2 linked regions of the Homo sapiens genome follow. The protein of the gene in region 1 purifies or fractionates together with the protein of each later gene. This does not show direct contact. Each region holds a gene or a part of one and is shown on either strand. Other genes may lie near its edges.

Region 1 (3,821 bases):
GTCAGCTGTGGCTTAAAAGGACTTGACATGAATTGAGCTACCATTTGTTATTAACAACCCAAAGAGAAGGCATCAATAATCTCACATGGCAGTTTATCACTTAGACCCTTGGTTAAAAAAAAAAAAAAAAGGGCATTTTATTAAATTGTAAATGATAATCCTAATAGCCACCTTTTGTTGAATACCTGCTTTATTATGGGCATGTCATTTGCTTAGCATTCTTCACAAAATGCTGGACGGGTTGTGTAGCTGATGATTTACTCTGGGCAGATACCCTGTACACAGGACTTTGAGAGTGCTTGAGTTAGCTGAATGGAAAAAACTTGGCGTTGGGTGGCTATGTTAATTCACATAATAATATTACCATGTTTCATACTCATAGACTGCTCAAATCTCATCAAATCCTCCAACATCTGTCCCTACTGCACCAGCTCTTTCTTCTGTAATTGCTCCAAAGAACTCGACTGTTACATTGGTCCCAGAACAGGTAACAACAACAATCATTGCATTTAATTGATGTCTTTTCCTGATTTGTAAGCACCTTATATACAGTTTGTCTTTTCTGGTTAACAACATTGAGATGTAGGTACACTCATTTCACAGAGGAAGAGACTGAGGCTTAGTAATACTATGTGACTTACCATAGTTCAGTTCCAAGAAGGAGTAATCCCATGGGTTCTGTCTGCTTCCAAAGCCCAACTTTGTAAGAGTTGTGCTTGCCTAGCGGCTTTCATGGCTTTCTGGAGCCTTGACTGTGGACTGGATCTAGGGTCCATCAGCTAATTCCTGTTACTTCTGGTAGGACTGTCACATATTTCAGAGAGTTTAGTAAATGGTAGTCTTATTACTTGTATTTATTATGCCAACTGAATTGTATTTACTTCTTTGTGTATATCAGTTTATCCAAGGTACCGATAAACAATTATTATATGAGGCTAATTTCCGTTCTGCTGTAAAGGAACTATAATTGAAGATTTTGTTGTATTATTTTTTTCTTATATAAAAATGCATGTGACTAATTCCTCTTAGAATTTAATACAGGAAGAAAAGGTGTTTCTTTATTCCTTCTTCTTTAATACCATGAGAACTGGATAACCCTCATTTGTTTTTCTTTTACCCTATTGGTTGCCAAGAAACTCAGGATAACTTTTGCCATTTTATCCAGGTTTCTGGTACCTTCTTCTGCTAGGTACCTGGTACTTCTCCCCTCTCCATATTGGGTTCTAATCTTTTTTTTTCCTTTCATTTTTAAAATTCCTAAAGCATATTTTGGGGTTTATTACAAGAGATCTCAAGTCCTTTTAGAAGGTGACAAGGTATACATTTGTAAAATAACTATATGTATATTTATATGAAATTAAATTTAAGTTTGAAAATATTAAATTTTGCAAAAGCATTTTTTCATCCAGCAAATGTCCCATGGGGGCAGGAAACAAGGTAGTTATTCTTTGTGTGTCGCACTGACTGGTGATTGTGTTGCTCTCTACAGATTGGAAAACTGCACAGTGAATTGGATATGGTGAAAATGAATGTGCGAGTGATGTCCGCCATATTGATGGAGAATACTCCTGGGTCTGAAAACCATGAAGACATAGAGCTTCTGCAGGTGTTGTACGATTTCAGGGACTATCAGTCAAAGTGTCTCTTAAAGTTATTCTCTAAACTTTGAGTTTGGAGATGGAAGACACCTTAATATTGTCTAGTACATCCTCCTACATCCTGATTTCAGTTGATTTCTAAACTTAACAAAAATATCCAAGAATGACTTTGTCAGAAATGCAGTAGTAACTTAGACATGGTTTTTAGCCTCTTGCAACAAATAATTTATTATAAGTTATAACCTTGGTCATGTACAATCAATTCTCTAGTTGTTTTAAGTATGTAAAAATTGCCTCTATTTTCATCCACTCAACAAACATTGAGTAACTGTGATATAGGAAGGGATGTAGAAATGAGAAGGAGGCTATTCTAGTCCTTAAGAGTTTATGCCTAATGAGCAAGATTGGTTTGTAAACAACAAACATAATGAAGTATTATAGATACTGTAGTATAAATTTGTTCAGTATATGGTGGGATCATGGGTGGGGAGAAGGAGAGATGTGAGGTTTTTAAGAATGGTCTAGATGGAGGCAATGCTCGAGCTATAGAGGAACAAGTAGACAGGGCATTTAGACCTGCATGAGTAGTTCTACAGCCCTCCTATGCCTTCTGCTATGTCTGTGTATACATATACTTTATTTTTCCCTCTACCAGTTTGCTCTTCTAATTATTTTAAATTTTAAAACTTATTAATTTTAGAAGCAGTTAGAAAAAAAAATCAGTTTCTAGTTTCTAAGTCCCTTTGTTGCCAAGTTAAGAAGCTTAAGATATTTTTACTTTTCTCAGATTCCCACTCGCCACCTCTCATGTTATTTTTCCTTTAACTTCTTAGATTGTTAGTAAATAACTTTTTCCTTGCTCATTTCTTATTTGGGAAACAAAAAAATTGTAAAAATTTTCCCAACAATGTTTCTTAGATATCACTGCTGTCGTGAATAGTTTGTTTTTTCCTTGCTGCAGTACACCCATGTTGGTAAACTTTGGTGCAAACTTTGAGTGCTTGCATATCCAAAAATGTCCTCTGATTGTCATGTTAAATGCAGGTTAGTTTAGCTAGATATAAAATTCTAGGCACAAAATTCTAGGCCTTTGAAGATACTGCTTCACTGTTCTCTTACACCCACTAATGCTGATAGAAGTATTATATTATTCTGCTTCTTAATCCTTTGATTAATAATATTTTTTTCTAGTTGCATTTGTTATTTTTCTACGTTAATATTTCAGAAATTGTACTGTTCCCTCTGAAGAGATATATGTACATGTGTGCAGATGTTTGTTTAACTTACTTATCTTCCTTAGTAGATGATAGGCTTTTTTGCCTTATCAACTTATGTGTATTTTTAATTCTAGGAATTCTCAGCTCCTACTTTAAATATTGACTTTCTACCATTCTTTCTATTCTCTTCTTATGGAACTTTAAGACGATGAAACTTCCAGTTGGATTCATTTGTCTCTTAACATTTCTTTTATACTTTTCATTTCTTCATTCTAAGTTCTGGGATAATTTCTCTGTTTAATGTATTTCTCTAAAACTTGTAATTGAGTTGCTTATTCAGTCCTTCTAATAAATGTTTCAACAATTTCTTTCTATTAAAAATATGTACTTTAAACATATTTACTATATACAAATATGTACATAATTTTAAAATATTTTTAAAATATGTTGGATTTTTATAACAGTTCTTTCATTTCATGGTTCTGCTTTTCTTTATCTTTCCAAGGATAATAATTATATTTAACGCTGCTTTTTTGTTTGTTCTGTGGACTCTCCTTTGCAAATTTTTTGTTCATTTTTTAATTTGCATTCTCCAGTGTTCAGCTGGATTGCTGATAGTGAGCTCATTTTTGTGTGAGACTCTCTGCCAGCTGGTCTGCATTCTCTGCTGACCCAGCTCACCCATGCTGAAGGGAGGATGTAATTGCTACTGCTGTGCTTGATAATATTTTCAGAGTATGGTATAGCAACATGGGATGATGCTGTTTGGGATCCATTTATGGATGGTCTTCTGGATTATGTATTCTCTATTTTTTTCCTGAATGCTACTAGTGCCTAGAAATAATACCCTATCCCTCTGTCCCAATCATTGTTTCCACCTGGAAACATTACTCCTTTCTCAGCTATCTGGTCTCAAATGAGAGAAGGGGCATGAGCAGGGGTTGTCTTTCCTGGTTATTTCACTGCCGTACCTCAACCAATCTGTTAGAGCCCCTTGTGCTTCTTG
Region 2 (3,821 bases), on another chromosome or scaffold:
CTACCCGGCCTCAAAAATTTTTTTTAAATACAAAAAAATTAGTCGGGTTTGGTGGCACATGCCTGTAGTCCTAGCTACTCCGGAGGCTGAGGTGGGAGGAACACCTGAGCCTGGAAGGCCAAGTGATTGCACCATTGCCTGCGCTCCAGCCTGGGTGACAGAGAGGGAGACCCTGTCTCAAAAAAAAAAAAAAAAAAAAAAAATTCCTGTGGAGTGGCTGGAGCCACAGCGTGATTTAAGGCACCCAAGACCTTTACAGCTCCTGTTAGTAAGTGAAACCTGAGGTTCTGCCTTTGTGCTACCTCTGTATCCCATATAGCCCTCCAGTGAATAAATCAATGAGTTTATGTTGAATAAATATATTGAATTTATATCGAATAAATATAAATTTAGATTGAATAAATAAATGGGGGTAAACAAATGAATGTGGGGATACAGCTTTTAATAGTTTCAGCCTTCATAGACTCATAGTTAATATATTCAGTCCTTTTACACAATACTGCAGTTAATTCTGCATATGATAGTCTCCTCAGGAAGGACATAGGCTGTCATTCATTTTGATTCTTGGCACATAGTATGCATTCATTATGGTGAATTAGTAAGCAAAAATGGGAAATTCATGTGTCTTTTGGAAAGTAGCTGGAGTCAGGATCTCCTGTTCACTTTGTACATCTCTATTGTATTTTCCTCATAAGGAGAAAACTTTGGCTGGGCATGGTGGCTCATGCCATCCCAACACCTTGGGAGATTGAGGCCAGGAGTTCGAGACCAGCGTGGGCAGCATGGCAATACTCCATTTATAACAAAAACAGAAATTAGCTGGGCGCGGTGGCTCATGCCTGTAATCCTAGCACTTTGGGAGGCTGAGGCTGGCAGATCACCTGAGGTCAGGAGTTCGAGACCAGGCTGAGGAACATGGTGAAACCCTGTCTCTATTAAAAATACAAACATTAGCTGGGTGTGGTGGCACTTACCTGTAATCCAGGTTACCCAGGAGGCTGAGGCAGGAGAATTGCAGGAACTTGGGAGGTGGAAGCTGCAGTGAGCTGAGATTGCGCCACAGCGCTCCAGCCTGGGCGACAGAGTGAGACTCTGTCTCAAAAAAGAAAAAAAAAGAAATTAACTGGGCATGCTGGTGTGCAACTGTAGTCCCAGTTACTTGGGAGGCTGAGGCAGGAGGATTACTTGAGCCTCGGAGTTTAAGGCTGCTTAAGTGATTGTCCCACTGCACTCCAGTCTGGACAGAACCAGAAAAAAAGAAGAAAACTTTCAGCTAAACAACTTAAAAGTAATATTATCCATTCTGTTCCTTCAAGGTTTTCCTTTTTTTTTTTTTTTAGACGGAGTCTCCCTCAGCCACCCAGGCTGGAGTGCAGTGGCGCAATTTCGGCTTACTGCAACCACTATTTCCCAGGTTCAAGCGATTCTCCCATCTCAGCCTTCTGAGTAGCTGGGATTACAGGCACTCGCCATCATTCCCGGCTAATTTTTGTATTTTAGTAGAGATGGGGTTTCACCATATTGGCCAGGCTGGTCTTCAACTCCTGACCTCAGGTGATCCACCCACCTTGGCCTCCCAAAGTGCTGGGATTACAGGTGTGAGCCACCGCACGTGGCGTAACGTTTTCCATTTTATAGATTGCTTCCAAATACAGTATAGCTTTTGATCCTCACAACACCTCAGTTGAGTAGGCAGGGTAGATACTGCTTTTTTACAGAAAAGGAACTGAACTCAGGCAAAAGTGAATTAAGGTTACGGTTGGGTCTGGAATTCCAGAGACTTTTTGATAATAATGATAATATTGTGAATAAGATGGTTCTCATTTTTCTAGACACAGCAGTTTGTGGCACTACAGCACCATGCCAGTGATCAGCACTCTCACCAAAGCCTGTCACTTCTCCCCAGCCTACCTCTCAGGGAAATCGTAATATCTGTGAAAGAGCTGTTTTTGTTTTTGTTTGTTTGTTGACACAAGGTCTCTGTCGCCCAGGCTGGAGTGCAGTGGCATGATCTTGGCTCACTGCAAGCTCCGCCTCCTGGGTTCACGCCATTCTCCTGCCTCAGCTTTCCGAGTAACTGGGACTACAGGCGCCTGCCACCATGCCCGGATTATTTTTTGTATTTTTAGTAGAGACGGGGTTTCACCATGTTAGCCAAGATAGTCTTGATCTCCTGACCTCGTGATCCGCCTGCCTCGGCCTCTCAAAGTGCTGGGATTACAGGCGTGAGCCACCGCGCCCGGCCATTTTTGTTTTTTTTGAGACGGAGTCTTGCTCTGTCACCCAGGCTGGAGTGCAGTGGCGCGATCTCGGCTGACTGCAACCTCCACCTCCTGGGTTCGTGCCATTCTCCTGCCTCAGCCTTGTGAGTAGCTGGGACTACAGGCGCCTGCCACCACGCCCGGCTAATTTTTTGTATTTTTTTTCTAGTAGAGACAGAGTTTCACCATGTTAGCCAGGATGTTCTGGATCTCCTGACCTCGTGATCCACCCACCTGGCTAATTTTTTTACTATTTGTACTGACAAGATCTTGCTATGTTGCCCAGGGTGGTCTCAAACTCCAGGGCTCAAGCAATTCTGCCACCTCGGTCTCCCAAAGTGCTGGGATTACAGGCGTGAGCCACCGCGCCCAACTTGTGAAAGAGCTTTGAAGTCATAAAGTTTTTTCTCTCTCCACCAGTTCCCTTGTACTTTCACTTTCAGTAAGCTGTGCCTCCAAAGTGGGGCTACAGCATCCCCACTCCCTGGTAATCTAATGGCTGGAAGGCAGCCGTTTGCTGTTAGGGTTCTTGGGGGATGTAGGCTACATAGAGGTAGGTACATTCCTGCTACATACAGGTGGTCCCTTGTACAGATAGGCCCATCCCCAGGACTATTGCTGCTGACAGCCGCCTCACCATGACATCAGGCCAAACCTAGAGACCCTGACTTTGGGGCTAGTGGAACTTTGCAGTTCTAGGCGTGTACATTAACACAGAGCTGAAGGGATCTTTAGAGATAATCTCATATGGACCCCTCCTTTTTTTGGTGAAGTGACTCCCTCAGGACTTGAAGCTAGAACTCAAACCCCGGTCTCCTGAGCCTCTCTCCCTCTTCCCCAGTTGGACTAAACTGAGGGTTTTTCTCCCCCTTTTTTTCTTTTTTTTTTTCCTTCTTTTTTTGTTTTTTTGAGACGGAGTCTCTCTCTGTCGCCAGGCTGGAGTGCAGTGGTGTGGTCTTGGCTCACTGCAACCTCCACCTCCTGGGTTCAAGCGATTCTCCTGCCTCAGTCTCGCAAGTAGCTGGGATTACAGGCACGCACCACCATGCCCAGTTACTTTTTGTATTTTTAGTAGAGATGGGATTTCACCATGTTGGCCAGGCTGGTCTTGAACTCCTGACCTTGTGATCTGCCCACCTTGCCCTCCCAAAGTGTTGGGATTACAGGCGTGAGCCATCGTGCCTGGCTGTCCCTCTTTTTTTCTAATTCCTAGTCTCGGGCCTGACACAGAGCAGATGCTCGATACATATTTGTTTAATGAACAAACATCCAGCAGCAGTGTGCTTGGTGTGCTGGGGTGTTGAACCTCTTGAGGTTGGCATGGGAAGGAAGAACAGATGGGGCTGCTGTCTGCTGGTGATGATGATTTTAGCCTTGGACATTACAACATAGAGGTTTTAGGATCAAACAGCTCACCTGAGTCGTGCTTTGACTTGGCTTGAGAAGCCAGAAGTCTTGTGTAATGTGTACTTTGACTTTCAATTCCCTTAATTTTCCTTCATTTTTTTTTCTTTGATTAGTTCTTTGGGGTGACTTTCAAGATGGACTCTACTCTAACAG

The links.
Region 2: the proteins of TOM1L1 (region 1) and AARS1 fractionate together in Homo sapiens (co-fractionation; one large-scale study listed by BioGRID). This does not show direct contact.

What each region holds. Positions count from the first base shown.
Region 1 is NC_000017.11:54,914,257-54,918,077, forward strand, and holds part of TOM1L1 (TOM1-like protein 1), read left to right. Parts: intron 1-382; coding exon 383-487; intron 488-1,489; coding exon 1,490-1,606; intron 1,607-3,821. UniProt on the Homo sapiens protein: Probable adapter protein involved in signaling pathways. Interacts with the SH2 and SH3 domains of various signaling proteins when it is phosphorylated. May promote FYN activation, possibly by disrupting intramolecular SH3-dependent interactions.
Region 2 is NC_000016.10:70,282,745-70,286,565, reverse strand, and holds part of AARS1 (alanine--tRNA ligase, cytoplasmic), read left to right. Parts: intron 1-3,781; 5' UTR 3,782-3,802; coding exon 3,803-3,821. UniProt on the Homo sapiens protein: Catalyzes the attachment of alanine to tRNA(Ala) in a two-step reaction: alanine is first activated by ATP to form Ala-AMP and then transferred to the acceptor end of tRNA(Ala). Also edits incorrectly charged tRNA(Ala) via its editing domain.